Regions from separate parts of the Homo sapiens genome. Here region 1 is linked to region 2. The links come from fine-mapping of genetic effects on gene expression. A gene starts in region 2. The other region holds a variant in brackets. All regions are shown on one strand. Distances are from middle to middle.

Region 1 (10,786 bases), 150 kb after region 2:
TCCCATACATTCTCTGAAATCTAAGTGGAGGCTCCCAACCCTCAACTCTTGTCTTCTGCGTACCCACATGCCCAACACCACGTGGAACCCACCAAAGCTTGGGGCTTGCACCCTCTGAAGCAATGGCCAGAGCTGTACCTTGGCCCCTTTTAGCCATGGCTGGAGCTGAGAGTGTCGGGGACACAGGGTGCCATGGCCTGAGGCTGCACAGAGCAGTGGGGCCCTGGATCTGGCCCACAAAACCATTTTTCCCTCCTAGTCCTCCAGGCCTGTGATGGGGGGTGCGGCAGTGAAGGTCTCTGAAGTGCCCTGGAGGCATTTTTCCCATTGTCTTGGCTATTAATTAACATTTGGCTCATCTTATGCAAATTTCTGCAGCCTTGACTTTTTCCCCAGGAAATTTTTTTTGCTGCATAATGAGGCTGCAAAATTTCCAAACTTTTATGCTCTGCTTCCCTTTTAAATGTAAGTTCTAGTTTCAGGTCATTTCTTTGTTTATGAAAATGAGTATAGGCTTTTAGAAGCAGCCAGGCCACATCTTGAATGCTTTGCTGCTTAGAAATTTCTTCCAGATACCCTAAATCATTTCTCTCAAGTTCAAAGTTCCACAGATCTCTAGAGCAGGGACATGATGCCACTGGTCTCTTTGCTAAAGCATAGCAAGAGTGACCTTTACTCCAGTTCTCAGTAAGTTCCTCATCTCCATCTGACACCACCTCAGCCTGGACTTCACTGTCCATATAACTATCAGCATTTTGGTTACAACCATTCAACAAGTCTCTAGGAAGTTCCAAACGCTCCCTCATCTTTCTGTTTTCTTCTGAGGCCTCCAAACTGTTCCAACCTCTGCCCGTTACCCACTTCCATCCAAAGTTGCTTCCTTATTTTCAGGCATCTTTATTGCACTGCCCCACTTCTCTGGTACCAGTTTTCTGTATTCATTTGTTCTCACACTGCTCTAAAGACATACCTGGAACTGGGTAATTTATTGATAATAGACATTTAATTGGCCCATGGTTCTGCAGGCTGTACAGGAAGCATGGCTGGGGAGATCTCAGGAAACTTAGAATCATAGAGAAAGGTGAAGGGGAAGCAGGTACAATCTTCACATGGTGGAGCAGAAGAGAGAGGGTGAAGGGGGAGGTGCTACATCCTTTTAAACAACCAGATCTAGTGAGAACTCACTATCACGAGAACAGCAAGGGGGAATCCACCCCCAGGATCCAATCACCTCCCACCAGGTCCCTCCCCCAACATTAGGGATTACTGTGCAACATGAGATTTGGGTGGGGACACAGAGCCAAACCATATCAACAGGGTTGTGATTTTGGAGTCAGGGTGCCTTGTAGATGGAGTTTCCTAATTTCGAATTGCTGCCTCTTCTCTTATTCTTCACCCTGCAGCCATAGGTTTTTTCTCAATGCACCTCTGAGCAGCAGCAGGTGTACGAGGCCTCTAGTCAAGCCTGGATGTGCTCCTGCAGCTGTCTTGTGAACTTCACCTGTAGCCAGAATCATTGGCCAAGCCCCATGTAGATGCCGTGGGAAAATCATATGTGGCTATCAGCGGATACTGAAAAGGGATCCATTTGAGGTTCAGCACCCATTCCTAACTTAAAAGAAGAAATAAAACATGTAAAATAGAAATAGGAAAAAGCTACAGTAGTTTTTGCATTGCATGGAGGGCCAGCATCATAAAAATGGTGGTTCTGCAAGCCGAAACTGTGCAGAGCAATCCTACTGAGAAGCAGCTGCTCCATCACCTGTGAAGCAGTACAGTAAAAACTCCCACTGTTTGTTATTGGTTACAAATGTGTAGAGAAATGAAAAGAGCAGTAAAACTAATGTATTTAGCACACTGTGATTTGAAACACTAGAAACATTGGGATTAAAGCATTTTGTCTCTTTCTAAAGTCCCGTCAATAGTAGTTTAAACAGCACTTGCCGCCACTGCCTCTTCCTACAACTTCCGCTTCTGGGCTTCTGGCCGAGCATCTTCTCCGGGGCCTGTTGAGTTGCCACGCTCCTTTCTAGTTGGATCGGCTTCCAACACTGTATCATTTGCACATCCCGTGTTGCAAAATGCCTCCCAGAGTTCCTTTCATTTGCGGTTTTTTGCTGGCGTCACACCCCCGAGGCTGTCTTCATCCTTCTCGTCACAACTGTTTGCTCATTGTGAAGATTAATACTGAGTGTCAACTTGATTGGATTGAAGGATGCAGAGTATTGATCCTGGGTGTGTCTGTGAGGGTGTTGCCAAAGGAGACTCACATTGAATCAGCGGATTGGGAGAGGCAGACCCACCCTCCATCTGGGTGGGCACCATCTCATCAGCTGCCAGCGTGGCTAAAGTAAAGCAGGCAGAAGAAAGTGGAATGAGAGAGACTTACTGTCTTCCAGCCTTCATCTTTCTCCCGTGTTGGATGTTCCAAGTTCTTTAGCTTTTGGGCTCTTGGACTTACACCAGCGGTTTGCCAGGGACTCTTGGGCCTCTGGTCACAGACAAGGCTGCACTGTTGTCTTCCCTGCTTTGAGGGTTTTGGGACTCGGACTGGCTTCCTGGCTCCTCAGCTTGCAGACGGCCTATTGTGGGACTTCACCTTGTGATTGTGGGAGTCAATACTCCTTAATAAACTCCCCTTTGTATATACGTACATCCTATTAGTTCTGTCCCTTTAGAGCACCTTAATACACTCATTTACGCAGACAGGCTGCCCCCTCTCAGCCTCTCTGGCTGCACCGCTGGAGCCCCTGGTTGGCAGCAGCGTCCACGTTCCCTCCCTCAGCTGTTTTCTCTGTGACCTCACTTAGGTTTCATTCAAATGTCACTTCCAGGGTTGTCACATTTCATTTCTTTGCTGCATTTTCACCTTTGTGGGTTGGTTCCCTCTTTCCATTTTCATAAACTGTCGTGTGGGCTTATCACTGGGAGGCAAGGAGGCAACAAACTTTTCTGTGTGAGCTGAATAACAGGTGCTCAGTGATCAATTCCTGATGGGCTTTGAAAGAAGTGTCGGGATGGGTTCCTGATCTGATGCACACCTGTGATTTGCACATTTGTGGGTTGAAGAGTTGGCAGCACAGTTTACTCTTCGTGCGGTTTCTCACGGTTGTATGCCAGGGAGACCGGTACTTGAATTGTGCTGTTGGGGGGGGGGGCTTTGTTACTGAACTATGGTAACAGAAATGCGTGCATATCACAGCTGTGTAAAGTAAGGACTACCCATACTGAAATGTGATGAAAATCAAAAAATAATGGTAAACGTTCTTTTAAGTGGCAAAACATTAAAGCCATTTCAGTTAAAATTAGAAACTGGTCAGGGATGTGTACTCTTCCTGTTACTTAACAATCACTTGAAGGCCCGAAATTATAATGAGAAAAGAAAGATGAAATAACCGACGTAACATTAGACAAGAAGAGAGAAAGCTCTTTTTGCTGCTCTGATGTGTACACGTGTTGAGGATACCCAAGTCCACCCCAGGTTCAGTAATTCACCAGGACTTGTAGGACTTAGCATGCAGTTGTGCTCATGGGTGAGATTTACTATCGTGAAAGGATGCAGAGAAAATCACAGGGAAAAGACACGGGATGAAGTCCAGAGAAAATCAGGTCCTCTGCTGGGGGAGTCACACAGGACATTCTTAGTTTGTCCACAGCATGTTGTGATAATGTGGGTGAAGTGTGTGTGCCAGGGAAGCTCATCAGAATCTCAGTGCCCATGTTTTTATTGGGGACTGGTCATGTAGGAACCCTCTGCCTAGCATGTGCCAAAATTACAGACTCCCAGTTCAGTGTAGACCACATTGTTTGTTCAAATAGTTGAGGCACAGTGAGACACCCATGTCAGAGAATGGTGGGAACCCTCCTAAAATTCAGGCTCCCGGCTGCCAATCAAGGGCCAACTTTGGAAGCAGACCTTTCTAAGGAGTGCAATCTTGGGCTTGCTGTGTGAATTCTTTTTCTGCATAACCTAGAAGACCCCCTGCTATAATAACATATTTTGCTAAGGCTTCTGGATATAAGCTAAAGATACAAAAGCCATGGGCTTCTCCGCTGTGGCAATAAGAACCTAGCAATGGAGAAAACATTCTGTGTGGCCAGGCGCGGTGGCTCATGCCTGTAATCCCAGCACTTTGGGAGGCCGAGGTGGGTGGATCACGAGGGCAGGGGATCAAGACCATCCTGGCTAACACGGTGAAACCCCATCTCTACTAAAAATACAAAAAATTAGCCAGGCGTTGTTGCGGGCACCTGTAGTCCCGGCTACTCGGGAGCCTGAGGCAGGAGAATGGCGTGAACCTGGGAGGCGGAGCTTGCGGTGAGCCAAGATTGCCATATGGAGTTTTAATGCTTATGTACTCAAATATGTTTGTATCTTTTTACATGGCTTCTGATTTTCCAATCTAGGTTAATATTACCTAAAATGTGCATACAGTAGAATTCTATTCTTAGGCATTTATTCATCTCCACAAATTTTAAGATACTTTTTATCCAATTCCCAAAAGACACTGTTGAGATTCACTGCACTCCAGCTTGGGCAACAGAGCGAGACTCCATCTCAAAAAAACAAGCAAACAAAACAAAACAAAAGACATTCTATGTATGTGGTGAAAAAAAATAAGATGTTTTAGAATAAAGGTGTAGGACCTATCCCTAAGTGAAGAAAACTGAGATCTTATTGAAAGACATAAAATTGGCCAGGTGCAGTGGCTCACGCCTGTAATCCCAGCACTTTGGGAGGCCGAGGTGGGCAGATCACCTGAGGTCAGGAGTTCGAGACCAGCCTGGCCTGACGTGGTGAAACCCCATCTCTACTGAAAATACAAAAATTAGCTGGGTGTGGTGACATGAGCCTGTAATCCCAGCTACTCAGGAGGCAGAGGCAGGAGAATTGCTTGAACCCAGGAGATGGAGGTTGCAGTGAGCTGAGATTGCACCACTGCACTCCAGCCTGGATGTCAAGAGCGAAACTCTGTTTCAAAAAAAAAAAAAAAAAAAAAAAAAAGACGTAAAATCCAGATGGCTGAAAAAGCGCAGCTGAGAAGATTTCATATAACTTTTGTCAACTCTCCCAAGTTAATACGAAAATGTAATTCCAATTAGAATCTCAACAGTGTCTTTTGGGAATTGGATAAAAAGTATCTTAAAATTTGTGGAGATGAATAAATGCCTAAGAATAGAATTCTACTGTATGCACATTTTAGGTAATATTAACCTAGATTGGAAAATCAGAAGCCATGTAAAAAGATACAAACATATTTGAATACATAAGCATTAAAACTCCATATGGCAAAAGATACCCATGTTTGGCGATATAACATTTTAAAAACCTCATATAGCAAAAGATACCATAACCAATCAGTGGATAGGTTAGATTGCATAGATTGATGTAAACAACAAAGGGTTAATATGTATACACAAAAACCTTTTTAAAAATTGTCAGGCAAGGCTGGGAGTGGTGGCTCACACTTGTATTCCCAGCACTTTGGGAGGCCAAAGCAGGAGAATTGCTTGAAGTCAGGAGTTCAAGATCACAGTAAGACCTGATCTCTTTCTCTCTCCCTCTTTTTTTTTTTTTTTTAAGATGGAGTCTCACTCTGTCACCCAGGCTGGAGTGCAGTGGTGTGATCTCGGCTCACTGCAACCTCTGCCTCCCGGGTTCAAGTGATTCTTGTGCCTCAGCCTCCTGAGTAGCTGGGATTATAGGTGCCCACCACCACGCCTGGCTAATTTTTGTATTTTTTTTTAGTACAGATGGGGTTTCACCATGTTGGCTAGGCTGGTCTCGAACTCCTGACCTCAAGTGATCTGCCTGCGTTGGTCTCCCAAAGTGCTGGGATTACATGTGTGAGTCACCGTGCCCGACTGAGACCTGATGTCT[T/TA]AAAAAAAAAAAAAAAAAGTTACAGGTGGTGAGTGCCTGTAGTCCCAGTACCTCAGGAGGCTGAGGCGGGAGGATTGCTTGAGCCCAAGAGTTTGAGGCTGCAGTGAGCCATGAATACACCACTGCATTCTAACCTGAGTGACAGCAAGACTCTGAGAAATAAAATTTTAAAAAATTGTCAGGGAAGAGCACAAGAGTCAAACAGGAAACCACGACAATGATATGAATAACTGTCCAAATGACTAACACGTGAAAATGCTCAAATTCCTTAGTAGTAAGGGAATCATAAATCAGTGAGCTTTATAGACTGGCAAGATTTTAAAAAGAGCTGTATGGCTTGTTGTTGGGGAGGTGGAGGGAAGAAATACTTGCATATTGCTGGTAAATGTATGAAGTCTTAAAGTTTCTTTTGGAAGTCAATCTGGCAACATCTGGGAAAATTAAAAACAGGCATATCCTTTGACTTAGATATGTCAGGACAACTGTACAGTGTAATAACTGAACACTAGAAATGATGAATGTCACACAAAAGGAAACGGTAAACATGTTATAGCAGTCAATGTCAAGAAATACCGTGCAGCCATGTGAAGAGTGAGGTGAGAGTTACAGCTGTTGGCCTGAAAAGATGTCCACAAGATACGGCAAGTGAGAAAGAAAGATGCAAAAGTGTGCGTAATATCTTCCTAAAAATCAGTAACCAGGCTGGGTGCAATGGCTCACACCTGTAATCCCAGTACTTTGGGAGGCTGAGGTAGGCAGATCACTTGAGGTCAGGAGTTCAAGGCCAGCCCAGCCAACATGGTGAAACCCCATCCCTACTAAAAATACAAAAAATTAGCTGGGCATGGTGGCACGTGCCTGTAATCCCAGCTACTTGGGAGGATGAGGCAGGAAAATCACTTGAACCCGGGAGGTGGAGGTTGCAGTGAGCCGCGATTGTGCCACTGCACTCCAGCCTGGGCAACAGAGTAAGACTGTGGAAAAAAAAAATTCAGTAACCAGAAAACGCACATAGATGTATCTGTGTAAGTGTGTATGTGCTTGTGCATGTCGGGATGGGATTAAGAGCACAGAGAACAACGTGGAAGGATGTTCTAGATAATGACCTCGGTCATCCAAGGTGGGAGATGATGGAACTGGGTGGTAATGAGGGTAAAGGGAGAGAGGGAGCCATGGATAGATGGGAACACGATTATGCCAATGCATGCATCTGATCACACTTACTCACCAAAAATACATAAATCCATGAGTTGTTATCTGTGGCAGAATTTATACTGTTTTTCCCCCTTTTCTGTTCTGTAACAGAACCTGGTTCTCTTGAGAAGGCAGCAGTGTGTTTACCTACGAGATTACGTTTCCCAGCATCTCTTGCAGCTAGGCATGGCCATGTGGCTAGTTCTGACCAATGAGATGAAAGCAGGAAGTGGTTAAAGCCTCCTCCCTTAAAAGGGAGACAGGTTACCGCTGGGCCCTTTCATTCCTTTAGATGTCTTCCTGCTTCCCTGGAGTGCACACATGATGGCTGGTGCTTGAGCAGCCATCTTCAACTTTGAGGGGACCTTAAGAATGGAAACCATTGACAAACAATGGCAGAATCTGGGTTCCTCTCAACCATAGAGCCATCCCACCAGCCTGGACTGCCTACCTGGAGACTTCTTTTATGTGGGAGAGAAATTAACTTTTTAAAGCCTCTGTTAGGTTTGGTCTGTGTTATAAGCAGCCATAGTTCCTGTTTAAAACAGTATGTACTAAAAAACCCAAGAAGTCAAAAGAATACACATTCAATCACAAAGTGCTAAGCTGCAGATGGAGTATTAAAAGTGGGAATTAAGAGACCACAGTAAATGAGGTATCCTAGACCGCATGTGGTCGTGTATATTTGCTTCCAGGCTATTTATTCAGAATTGCCTAAGCTCAAAGTAACTTAACCAAAACCTACTTTCTACTCTGAAAAGTTCAGGCTTGCTTCCATTTAGAAGCACAGGCAGTATCTCAATAATCGGAATTCAGGTAACAAAGCATTTATTAAGCATCTTCTCTCTCCACCATAAAGTAACCACTCTAAGGAAGACAGAAGATGTACATGACCCAGTTCCTGATGCCACGTTAAGACTCACTGAGAAACTAGGGCACAGTAGCAAATGCTGTAATGAAATACTGGGGCGAGGAAGTACTACGGCCTTTAGGCAGGTTCTTGATTATTCTCTGGATTCACTTTTGTATTTGGAAGATCTTAGTACATTCATTTGAAAAGGCTTTTTAAGCAAGAGAAAGATGCCATTATAACCTCAGAGAAGTGCAGTCGTGTGTCACTTGACAGGGATACGTTCTGAGAACTGTGCCATTAGGCGATTTTGTTGTGTGAACGTCATGGAGTACACTTAGACAAACCTAGATGGTACAGCGTATGACACACCTAGGCTATCTGGTGGAGCCTATTCCTCTACTAAGAACCTCTGCAGCATGTGACTACCGAATACTGGAGGCAATTTTGTTTGTTTGTTTGTTTGTTTTTGAGAGGGAGTCTCGCACTTTCGCCCAGGCTGGAGTGCAGTGGTGCAATCTTGGCTCACTGCAAGATCTGCCTCCTGGGTTCACGCCGTTCTCCTGCCTCAGCCTCCTGAGTAACTGAGACTACAGGTGCCCACCACCATGCAAGGCTAATTTTTTATATTTTTAGTAGAGACGGGGCTTCACCATGTTAGCCAGGATGATCTTGATCTCCTGACCTCATGATCCACCCGCCTTGGCCTCCCAAAGTGCTGGGATTACAGGTGTGAGCCACCGTGCCCGGCCTACTGTAGGCAATTGTAACACATTGGTAAGTATCTAAACATGGAAAAGTACAAGAAAAATATAGTATCATCTTATGGAACCACTGTCCTCTAGGTGGTCTGTTGACCAGAATGTCATGATGTGGCACATGGCAGTAGTATAATGCGGAAATCTGACTGGCAAAGACTTTAGGGGAGTCTCTCAGGTTAGACTGTGTTTCTGAAGATCTGTAATTAGAAAGGGGCATAGAATCACTTACATAATATTTTCTGCTTAAATTGTATTTTATAATGAGATCCTTATACGTGGGCTTTAGTAAACCCGTTCAAGACTAGGGGATGTTTTTTCCCCTCGTAAATTGAGAAATGTCACTGAGAACAGCACTGCCATCTAGCCCGTTTCTCTCAGAACTGCAGGTTTTGCCTCTGCAGCTTTTGACTTTGTAGGCAAAAGGTGAAGTTTCTCCTGCAGCTTTTGACTTTGTAGGCAAAAGGTGAAGTTTCTCTAAATACTAGCTCGCAAACTATCAATAGAAGCAAATACCTGAGAACTGAAGAAAACCCCCAACAATTGGAAACATCGATGAGAAATAATGGCAAGTTAAGAAAGCATAGCTTCTTCCAACTTTGTGAGGCATATTTAGAAAGAATTTGGAAAAGGTGGAAGGGTGGGATGGGGGTGAGGGATGAGAAATTACCTATTGGGTAGAATGTATACTTTTATTAGAGTGACAGTTACATTAAAAGTCCAGACTTTACTAGGCAACATATCCATGTAACAAGACTGCATCTGTACCCCCTAAATCTATCAAACAAAAGTTTAAAAAGACACTGGGCATGGTGGTTCATGCCTGTAATCCCAGCACTTTGGGAGGCCAAGGCAGGAGGATGGCTTGAGCCTGGGAGTTTGAGACCAGTCTGGGCAATACAGTGAGACCCCCATCTGCAGAAAAATAAAATCGCCAGGTGTGGTGGTGTGTGCCTGTAGTCCCAGCTACTTGGGAGGCTGAGGTGGGAGGATTGCTTGAGCCCAGGAGTTTGAGGCTGCAGTGAGCTATGATCGTGCCACTGCACTCCAACCTGGGTGACAGAGTGAGACCTTGTCTCAAAAAAATGAAAAAGAGAAAGTATGCTTACATTTGCCCATCCTAGCTACACATGTAAGCCTGAGTAATATGAACCAATGGAGAAATAAACAAGTTCTAATAACATTCTCAGAGTTTGCTTACAAGAAAAAGAGTTTGGAGAACTGTTAGATTAAGAGTTTTGTTGTTACTGCTCATTTAGGTTCATTGTAACAACTTTTGATTTGGGATGGTATAAGACTAAAGGATAGTTTAGGGTAAGAAATAGAACTTCAGCATTGATAGTCTGTGTTCCCTCCTCCTTTTTTCACATAGCTGTAGATTAGAGATTCTTGTTTCCCCTTTAAAATTGTTTGAGGCATAATTTGCAGAGAAATGTACAGATCTGAATTATAGTGCAGATATAGCATTGATGAATTGATACACCCATGTGACCACACCGCTGCTAGGATAACAGTATTTCCATCACCACAGGAAGTTCCCATAGATACAACCGCCCTTCTGATTACTTTCACTATAGATTTGTTTTGTTTTGAGACAGTGTCTTGTTCTGTTACCCAGACTGGAGTGCAGTGGCGTGATCTCGGCTCACTGCAGCCTCCGCCTCCCAGGTTCAAGCAATTCTCCAGCTTCAGCCTCCCAAGTAGCTGGGGCTACAGGCTCATGCCACCATGCCTGGCTAATTTTTGTATTTTTAGTAGAGACAAGGTTTCACCATGTTGGTCAGGCTGGTCTCAAACTCCTGACCCCAAGTGATCTGCCTGCCTTGGCCCCCAAAAATGCTGGGATTACAGGCGTGAGCCACCGTGACCAGCCTATAGATTAGTTTTGATTGTTGTAAAAGTTCATGTAAATGGAATCCTACAGTATGTAATGTTTTGTATCAGGCTGCTTTTGCTCAATATAATGTTTGTTTGAGGTTTATTTATGTTATAGCAGCACAAAACAGACCAAGATACACGTTTAAGTCAATAATTTGTTCTTTTGTTTTCTATTGTATAAATATACCAGTTTCTTGGCTGGGCATGGTGGCTTATGCCTGTAAT
Region 2 (10,786 bases):
TGATCAGCTGTATCTCCATCTTGAAGTCTATTGCTAAATACAAAACAGATGACATAAGACAACGAGGTCACTTCATAATAACTGCCAATTAAGATAGAACTTATTTAATCAATAAAGGTAGTTACTTAATGAATTACTGAATTTGATTGGGAAAAGCCATTAAATTCCAAACTTACAGTTTGCTTGTATGTGCAGGTCTCAAAATAATGCTTTTTGTTACTTTTACAATTTACTCTCTACTATAGACCGCAAATTAGATGCCCTCATTTTCATTTTAATATGCTTTTTAACATCTGAAGTGGTCCATTAAACTACAGTCAAATAGCTGTCAGGAGTGACTAGATCTAAGCACTTCTCATTTCACTTGGAAACTGCTTTGGTTGGGTGTGGTGGCTCATGCCTGTAATCCCAGCGCTTTGGGAGGCTGATGTGGGAGGGTCACTTGAGTCCAGGAGCTCGAGACTAATTTGGGTAACATAGGGAGACCCCGTCTCTACAAAACATAAAAAATTAACCAGGTGTGGTGGTGCTTGCCTGGCTAATTTTTTATGTTAGTCACAGCTATTGGAAGACTGAGGTGGGAAGACTGCTTGAGCTTGGGTGGTTGAAGATGCAGTAAGCCATGATCACACCACTGCACTGCAGCCTGGGTGACAAAGTGAGACTCTGTCTCAAAAAAGAAAGAAAGAACTGCGCGTTGGCTGCGGCTGTAATGCTGCCTCCACCCCTCCCTCCCTCCACCCACTCACTGCTCCTTTCACATCACTGCTCAGGATCCAAAGAATCCGAATGCTCGGCAGTGTGCTCCCTTTCCCACACTGCGCAGCTGTGTGTGTCAGCTTTACCGCACTGAATCCTTCACAAGCCCAACCTAGTCAAAGGTCAAATGGCGGCCCTCAAATCACTGAAACCCGGATCGTGTGGTCATTTATTCACTTGGCAAATGTGCACTGAGCATGTACTAGGTGCCAGACATTGTTTTAGGAGCTGAGAAACAATAAAGGGTCAGGATATCTGGGAGAGGAATCCTCGGCATTGGCAGAGACTCCGAGGTCAGAATGAACTCGGAGAGCTGGAAGGAATAGGGAGGCCACAGTGCCAGATTCAAATCCTGGCTGTCACTTACTAGCTAACTTAAACCGCTTAAGTTTTCTCATCTGTAAAACAGGGATAAAAACAGGATCCACCTCAAGGGGTTGTTATGGAGAATAACATAGAATAACTCTATGTCAAATGTTGAGTGTCTGGTACTGTATATTAAATGCTTGTTACATAAAATACCATGGCTGGACTATGGGAAGGAAGATGGGCCATGTCATTTAAGGGCCTTGGAGGCTAGCATAGAATTTAGCTTTTATTCTAAAACTGTTCTCTAAATTTAACAACTTTTTTTTTTTTTGCTTTAGGGTTTTTTTGTTTCCCGTTTTGACAATATGAAGAAAATTCAGTTTAGAATCTGGAACTGGCCTGGATGGGATTCGAGGGCAGCTGGTGGGGGCTGCAGAGCCCCTTCGATTCCTCCCCCACCGTGGGAGCTAAGCTACTGGACAGAGGAGCACCAACAGGGCACCGAACCAGGAACTAAGTTAGTGTCTTGAGTCAGGCAAGAATGGGGAGGCCAGGCCGGAGCTACAGCAGGGACTGCCCTGATTGTGGTTAGTTCTGTCTCTAGCCCTTTAACAGCATTTTAAAAGTGCTTTTCGTACTTACTTCCTACACTGCTTCCCACTCCTATAAAGTGGGTACTTGGAGAAAGCTCCTATAAAGCGGGTACTCGGATCCCGCAGCAGGTTAGCAGGACTGCACTCACACCAAATCTGTACGTCATGCTCCTGATGACGAGAACCTACCTCCAACACCTGCTTTCCTGCTCTTCCCTATGAGAGGACTTATTTAGGCAAGGATGGTCGTGAGGGTGGCCTGAGGTCTGACCTTGCAGGATGCGACTGTGTCCTTCTCCTGGAACACCTTGCAGATAGTCCGCCCTCAAATTTCCTGTCCTCAAGCTACTCGAATGCTCTGACAGTGTGAGGTTCCAAGAAACGAACAGCCCTGCTTTGGGAATATGTCACAGATGATCCAAACAAGACCCAGAGGAGGTTTCTGGAAGCCCCAGACTAGGAGTTCAGAGGCATGGAGTGAATCCCTTGTCTCTCAGCAACGACTGGGAAGGAAGCATTCTACAGGACCGATGGGTTTGGAAGCCTGGGAATCCTGGGCTCCAACACCAGCTCTGCCTGGTCAGCTCTCAACTGTGGGCAAGTCCCTTTAGCTGTTGTTTCAGAGGTTTTTTTTTTTCTCTTTTTTGAGACGGAGTCTCGCTCTGTCACCCAGGCTGGAGTGCAGTGGCGGATCTCGGCTCATTGCAAGCTCCGCCTCCCGGGTTCACACCATTCTCCTGCCTCAGCCTCCCGAGTAGCTGGGACTACAGGTGCCCGCCACCACGCCTGGCTAATTTTTTGTATTTTTAGTAGAGACTTGGTTTCACTGTGTTAGTCAGGATGGTCTCGATCTCCTGACCTTGTGTTCTGCCCGCCTCGGCCTCCCAAAGTGCAGGGATTACAGGCGTGGGCCACCAGGCTCAACCCAGAGGTTTCTTTTTCTGTGAAACAGGGATACCTCCACCTGCCCCCAGAGGGCTGTCAATGCAATTCAAAGAGGAAACCAAGGCCGGGAGCGGTAGCTCACGCCTGTAATTCCAGCACTTTGGGGGTCCAAGGCAGGGAGATCAAGAGGTCAGGAGATCAAGACCATCCTGGCTAACACGGTGAAACCCCGTCTCTACTAAAAATACAAAAAATTAGCCGGGCGTGGTGGCGGGCGCCTGTAGTCCCAGCTACTCGGAAGGCCGAGGCAGGAGAATGGCGTGAACCCGGGAGGCGGAGCTTGCAGTGAGCCAAGATTGCACCACTGCACTCCAGCCTGGGTGACAGAGCGAGACTCCATCTCAAAAACAAAAACAAAGGAGAAACCTAAAGGACCCAGCCTAGTGCCTAGTGCCTGGTACGGAATAAAAATCCAGAGAATGGACTGGGCACGGTGGCTTACGCCTATAATCCCAGCATCTCGGGAGGCCAAGGTGGGCGGATCACTTAAGGTCAGTAGTTTGAGACCAGCCTGGCTAACATGGCGAAACCATCTCTACTAAAAATACAAAAACTAGCTGGGCATGGTGGTGGGCGCCTGTAATCCCAGCTACTCGGGAGGCTGAGGCAGGAGAATCGCTTGAACCCGGGAGGCGGAGCTTGCAGTGAGCCAAGATCGTGCCACTGCACTCCAGCCTGGGCAACAAGACACTCCCCCTTTATCTTAAAAAAAAAAAAAAAAAAAGAATTCAGTGACTGATCACAGCAGTAACAGAATTGATACAAATATCCAGTTCATGGCTATAATTAATACTAAGCCACTGGGACTCTAACAAGAAGGAAGGCTTAAAAAGACGCCCTCATTTAGGCCAGGTAGGGGCTTTGGACAGAACAAGGTAAGATGAGGGTCTATAAGGAAAAGGGCAAAGTAAACTGGGAGGGTACAATGACTACGGTAAGAAGGGACTAAAGAAACTGAGTCATGCTGACATTGTGCTCCGGGCCCAGGCACCCTGGTATGGTCTCCTTACAAAATTACCCTTAGTCCCCAGTGCAACAGGGGCCTGCTATTCAGTAGCTTGCAAATACCTTTCCCTTCCTTTCCCCTTGACTTCAGTTGCCATATTTGCCTGGACAAGTGACATGTTCCCAATACATAATAAAACGAGGGCCCCCCCTTTTTTTTTTTAGACAGAGTTTCAGTTGGTCATCAGGCTGGAGTGCAATGGTGCGATCGCGGCTCACTGCAACCTCCGCCTCCCGGGTGCAAGCGATTCTCCTGCCTCAGCCTCCCGAGTAGCTGGGACTACAAGAGGCCGCCACCACACCCAGCTAATTTTTGTATTTTTAGTAGAAACGGGGTTTCACCATGTTGGCCAGGATGGTCTCGGTCTCTTAACCTCGTGATCCGCCCGCCTCAGCCTCCCAAAGGGCTGGGATTACAGGCGTGAACCACCGCGTCCGGCCCCTACTTTTTTTTTTTTTTTGAGACAGTCTCGCTTTGTCACCCAGGCTGGAATGCAGTGACGCGATCTCGGCTCACTGCAACCTCCGCCTCCAGGGTTCAAGCGATTGTCCTGCCTCAGCCTCCTGAGTAGCTGGGAAGCTGGGACTACAGGCGCGTGCCACCACACTGGGCTAATTTTTTGTATTTTTGGTAAAGACGGGGTTTCACCGTGTTAGTCAGGATGGTCTCGATCTCTTGACCTCGTGATCCGCCCGCCTCGGCCTCCCAAAGTGCTGGGATTACAGGCGTGAGCCACCGCGCCCAGCTACATATTCCCAACACATAATAAAACGACAGCCCCTACTTTTTTTTTTTTTTTTTTTTTTAAGACGGAGTTTCACTCGGTCATCAGGCTGGAATGCAATGGCGCGATCTCGGCTCACTGCAACCTCCGCCTACCGAGTGCAAGCGATTCTCCTGCCTCAGCCTCCCGAGTAGCTGGGACTACAGGTGCCTGCCACCACACCCAGCTAATTTTTGTATTTTTAGTAGAGACGGCGTTTCACCATGTTGGTAAGGATGGTCTCGATCTCTTGACCTCGTGATCCGCCCGCCTCAGCCTCCCAAAGGGCTGGGATTACAGGCGTGAACCACCGCGCCCGGCCGGCCCCTTTCTTGAGTCCATTCTGCCCAGGCACATTTCCTAGCTGTGTGTGTCAGTTTTACAGCACCAGACCTTTTAAAAATCCATCTTATTCATAGGCCAAACGTGTGTCTACTGTATCCACTTAAGTCTGCAAAGTTTTGGCACATTACATTAAGGGCGAACTATTACCTGACACTGGAAATGGGAAATGTCTGACCCGCGAGTTCCATACAATTTCATTCAGCACCGTATGATCTCTTTTCAGCTTCCCTGTTGCCTCACCCAAGTTGTCATGTACAGCATAACGTGGAGGGCAGTGTGGCGCAAGGAAACTTGAGTTATAAAGGAGAGAAGGGACTGGATGTGGAGTCAGAGTTCTTGGCTTGGACTCTGGCTTCTCTAACTCTGCGTAGCCTCTGGGTTAGGCAGCTGAACCTCTCAAGGCCAAGGTACGCTCCCTGTCAAAACCGTGGGAGAATTCAGGTGCACTGAGCGCGTTAAGGCCAAGGAGGGAAACGCGGCGCAGGCCTAGGCGATGCTTCCCTCTGGCAACCGACCCTGGCCTACCTCCCTTCAGAGAAGGGAAAGCCGGGCAGAAAAGCAGGCGCGTGCCGGCGGAGGGGTGGAACCCCAAGATCAGCTGGGGCCAAGGCGGCTTCTCGCCCTCCCGCCCCCGCCGTCTCGCACCTCGGGAGCCAGGTCCAGGTCCCCGTACTCACCTTGGCGCAGGACAGACGGCTCAGAACGCACCACAAATCTGCAGCCAACTCGGAAAGGTCACCGAGCGCGCAGGCGCGCGCAGGGGATGCCGGGAAGGCGGAAGCAGCAGAGACGCCGCAAGGCCAGAGTGCCTCCCCAGCGGCGCCTCCGCACCACAGCGCCCCCGGCGGCCGCCTGGTGTCGCAGGCAAGAAGGGGCGGGGAGAGGGTGCGTTAGGGGTGTGCCCGCGTGTGTCACTGTGGGCTGGCTAATCCTCCACATCTTCCCACGACTGATGGGTTTCCTGGGACGCGGGACCTTCAACGCTGAAACTAGGAAAGTTCTAGACATACCGGGAGGGTTGGTTAACCTAAGAAAAGGGACCCTCTTTACTGTGACGTTAAAGACTAAGTCAAGTCTCCCATTTCAGTGGTGTGTCTTGTCCCTTTCTATTGTTAATTATTTAGCTCTGCATGTATAAAATATATATATTTGGAGACGGAGTCTCACTCTGTCGCCCACGCTGCAGTGCAGTGGCGCGATCTCGGCTCACTGCAACCTCCGCCTCCCGGGTTCAAGCGGTTCTCGTGCCTCAGCTTCCTGAATAGCTGGGATTACAGGCGCTGGTCACCAAGCCCAGCTAGTTTTTGTATTTTTAGCAAAGACGGGGTTTCACCATGTTGGCCAGGCTGGTCTTGAACTCCTGACCTCAGGTGATCCACCTGCCTCAGCCTCCCAAAGTGCTGGGATTACAGGCTTGAGCCACCGCGCCCGGCCTGCTCTGCATATTTTTATGTCTGTATTCTGTGCATATTCTTCTCAGCAGATAATATAAAACTTCCACAGGGGCTCCAGACACTGGGCTTAATAGTCTTAAAAATATATATATATATATATATTTTTTTTTTCAGAAATATTTTCCAGTAGAGAACTAGAAATCATAAAAGAAAAAAATTTAGCGAGCGGATCACCTGAGGTCAGGAGTTCAAGACCAGCCTGGCCGACATGGCGAAACCCCATCTCTACTAAAAATACAAAAATTAGCCGGGCTTGGTGGTGGGCGCCTGTAATCCCAACTGCTCAGGAAGCTGGGGCAGGAGAATCACTTGAACCCGGAGGGCAGGGGTTGCAGTGAGCCGAGATCTTTGCACTCCAGCCTGGGCGACAAGAGTGAAACGCCATCTCAAAAAAAAAAAAAAAAAAAAAAAAGCCAAATAAAAATTGGATGGAGGCTGGGCGCAGTGGCTCAGCACTTTGGGAGGCCTGTAATCTGTAATCTTAGCACTTTGGGAGGCCAAAGCAGGCAAACTGCTTGAGTTCAGGAGTTTGAGACCAGCCTGGCTAACATGGTGAAACCCCTTCTCTACTAAAAATACAAAAATTAGCTGGGTGTGGTGGTGGTGCGCACCTGTAATTCCAGGTACTTGGGAGGCTGAGGCAGGAGAATCGCTTGAACCCTGGAGGTGGAGGCTGCAGTGAGCTGAGATGGCGCCACTGTATTCCAGCTTGGGCGACAGAGCGAGACTCTGTCTCAAACAAACAAAACAAAAAATTGGATGGATTTGGCAGATTAGACAGTTAAAGAATAAACTGCAAGATCGAAGAAGCCATTCAGAAAATAAGAGGGATACAGCAGGAAAGATACCAATCATATGGGTAATTGGTATCTTAGAAGGAAATTAAAGAGGTGAGGCAGAAATATCTGAAGAGCTAATGGCTGAGAATTTTCCAAAAGTGATGAGAAAAAAATCATGCCAAAGATTCAAAAAGCCTTACAGAGGCCAGGCGCGGTGGCTTACGCCTGTAATCCCAGCACTTTAGGAGGCCAAGGCGGGCGGATCACCACACCATCCTGGCTAACACGGTGAAACCCCGTCTCTACCAAAAATACAAAAAAATTAGCTGGGTGTGGTGGTGGGTGCCTGTAGTCCCAGCTACTCCGGAGGCTGAGTGAGAGAATGGCGTGAGCCCGGGAGGCGGAGCTTGCAGTGAGCAGAGATGGCGCCACTGCACTCCAGCCAGGGAAACAGAGCAAGACTCCGTCTCAAAAACAAAAACAAAAAACAAAAAACAAACAAAAAGCCTTACAGAAACCAAGCAGGCAGATAAATAAAAATAAATCAATACCTTGAAATCTCACAATAAAGCCATAGAAAAGATAAAGATAAAATCTCAAAGAAAGTAACCACCAATCAAGAATTCTATACACAGGGAATTCTATACACAGGGAAATTGGCATTCAGAAAAGAAGGTAAAATAAAGACAGTTAAGGACAAACTAAGAGGAAATCGTGCTAGGCATGGTGGCTCATGCTTGTAATCCCAGCACTTTGGGAGGACTGCTTGAGCCCAGAATTTTGAGACCAGCCTGGCCAATGTATTAAGATCCCATCTTTAAAGGAAAAAAAAAAAGAGGAAATTATTAGGTTTTGAAGGGAAGGCAAGGGTTAAAGACAGACAAGACAGACACACACACACAGAGGGAGGGGGGGAGGGGAGAGGGGAGAGAGATGGTGGCTTCAACAGCAACACAGGTTTATTGCCAGCAAAAACCCGTGGAGCGGATAACCAGTTTAGTGCCCGAGCTCACTGCCGCTTCCAGGCTGGGGTAATTATAGGTCTGGGCTGGATGGGTCTGGGCAGTATGGCTTGCTGCCTGGCAGGATGTGATAAGGATGTTCCCGCAGTCAGGCAGTTGGGCAGGATGTTTCTTATGGTCAGAGCCCCCATGGAATGTTTCACTCCGACCAGGGTCTGTGAAATGGTGGGGGGTTTATAAAATGGTGCAGCTAGGACTGAAATAATCACAAGCAGATCCACAGTAAAATAAATGTTCATTATTCAGGCACAAGGAAAACGAGCTCAGATGTGTCAAGATAAAATAATAAAAGGCTCAAGATCCAGTTAAAATCATTTTTTTTCTTTTTTGAGATGGAGTCTTGCTGTGTCGCCCAGGCTGGAGTGCAGTGGTGCGATCTTTGAAAATGTAAAAGTGTTATTCCTCTCACACACACACACACACACACACACACACACAATGTTTTTTGGAAAACATAGTGACGTTTTAGAAAAATACACTGTTTAACATCAAACGGGTTTATCATTTTAAAATAAATAAGTAAAAACATTTCTCAGTTGTAATCCCTGATAGACATAACCCACATAAACAAAATCTCTTTAGGGTCCTCAGCAACTTTTAAGAGTGTAAAGGGGTTCTGAGACAGAACCAGGTTTGAGAACCACTGTCCTATAGTAAAAATGTTTTAGAGTTTTAGATTTATAATGACTTATAACACTGCTGAGGACGAGAACAAGCATTTAGGAAAAACTTAAGGAAGAACATCATGGAGAGCTGCTTCAAGACAGAGCTTCTGAACTTCCAACTAGACTTGAGATCAATAGACTTTGCTATGTTGCCCAGGCTGGTCTTGAACTGCTGGCCTCAAGTGATCCTCCCACCTTGACCTCTCAAAGTGTCAGAATTACAGGCGTGAGCCACTGTGCTCAGACCAAGAGAGTTTTAATGTCTTTAGTTTCAAATCCAAAACACCCTAAGAAACGCACATCTTAAAAAAAAAAAACAACCAAATGTTTCTTTTTTTTTTTTTTTTTTTTTTGAGATAGAGTCTTGCTCTGTCGCCCAGGCTGGAGCACAGTGGCGTGATCTTGGCTCACTGCAAGCTCTGCCTCCCGGGTTCACGCCATTCTCCTGCCTCAGCCTCCCAAGTAGCTGGGACTACAGGCGCCCGCCACCACGCCAGGCTAATTTTTTGTATTTTTAGTAGAGATGGTTTTTCACCGAGTTAGCCAGGATGGTGTCGATCTCCTGACCTCGTGATCCGCCCGCCTTAGCCCCCCAAAGTGCTGGGATTACCGGTGTGAGCCACTGCGCCCGGCCAAAAAAACCTAAATGTTTAAGGAAAGGGCCACTCCAGCAGATTTATTCAAAGTGCAGAATGTTGCATCTTGTGGTAGGAAGGCTGGAGAAGACAGCAAGCTACTTCGAGCACAGCTTCCTCTGCTTTGAGGAGAGTGCTGCTGAATGGCACCAACACCATTTGTAACTGCTCTCAGCTGTTAGTTTCCCCTTTTTGGTGGACGCTCAAATGCTCAGTGAATGCAAATATGCAAAACCTTCCCAAAATACCATGGCTCACTAGGGGTTCAGTGGCCTTCCCATGTGTTCTGGCCTAGATGTGACAAGTCCATGAAGATCTATCTGATGTCAAGCTGTTTCTTGTTTCTTTTTTCTTTTTTGAGACAGAGTCTTGCTCTGCCGCCCAGGCTGGAGTGCAGTGGTGCGATCTTGGCTCACTGCAACCTGCACCTCCTGGGTTCGAGCGATTCTCCTGCCTCAGCCTCCCGAGTAGCTGGGATTACAGGTGCGCGCCACTACACCCAGCTAATTTTTGTATTTTTAGTAGAGATGGGGTTTCATCATGTTGGTCAGGCTGGTCTTGAACTCCTGACCTCACGATCTGCCCACCTCAGCCTCCCAAAGTGCTGGGATTACAGTCGTGAGCCACCGCGCCCAGCCCAAGCTGTTTCTTTTAACTCTGAACTTTGGACAGCAATGCAAGGTGAACTTGACCAAGTGAGTTGGGAGCACCGAGAACTACTGAATCAAATGAAAGGTGCTCAAAGCCATTCAGTCTGTGATGATTCAGAATGTTAACTAGTGTTTGGTCAGGAAACACTATGGCAACTTTCCAAATTGGCAAATTTCCAAAGAAGCATCAAGAGAGTATCTTTGGATTGCAATTAAAAAAAAAATCAAAACTCAGAAGGATTAGCTAGTAGCCCAAAAGATCAAAGAATATAGAAAATGCCCCCCAGAAAATGTTTTTGAAAAGCATCTTCCACTTAAAATCGTATTCATTGTGACATCAACAAAGGATGACAGCACACGGTAACAGCAACATCCTAGAAAAACAGGCCAGGCGCGGTGGCTCACGCCTATGATCCCAGCATTTTGGGAGGCCGAGGCGGGCGGATCATGAGGTCAGGAGATTGAGACCTTCCTAGCCAACATGGTGAAACCCCGTCTCTACTAAAATACAAAAAATTAGCCAGCCATGGTGGTGCATGCTTGTAGTCCCAGCTACTCCGGAGGATGAGGCAGGAGAATTGCTTGAACCTGGGAGGCAGAGGTTGCAGTGAGCTATCGCGCCACTGCACTCCAGCCTGGTGACAGAGCAAGACTCCGTCTCAAAACAACAACAAAAAACAAAACAAAACAAGTGTGAGTTCTGGAGTTGCTTCAAGTGGTTTCAATATATTTTGTAAAATTTTGAATTATGTCCTAGCCTCCACATACAGTGTGAAGTTACAATATTTTCCAATCAATGCTGAATGACATACCATGAGTCTCAATTACTTTATGATTACCTTTTTTCTTATTTTTTGAAAA

Evidence for each region. PIP is the estimated chance that this variant, and not a neighbour inherited with it, causes the effect.
Region 1: its variant is fine-mapped to the expression of ATP5MJ in whole blood (INTERVAL, PIP above 0.99).

The regions. Positions count from the first base shown.
Region 1 is chr14:104,066,697-104,077,482 of GRCh38, forward strand. No RefSeq gene overlaps it. Among named protein-coding and RNA genes, the nearest start is that of ASPG, 14 kb to the right of the region's middle. The variant T/TA (reference allele first, on the strand shown) is at 5,882.
Region 2 is chr14:103,916,073-103,926,858 of GRCh38, forward strand. ATP5MJ (ATP synthase membrane subunit j) reads right to left here and starts at 5,457. Exons shown (of 4, transcript NM_004894.3): 1 at 5,398-5,457. RefSeq lists an enhancer at 5,112-5,787 and silencers at 5,422-5,594, 5,481-5,650.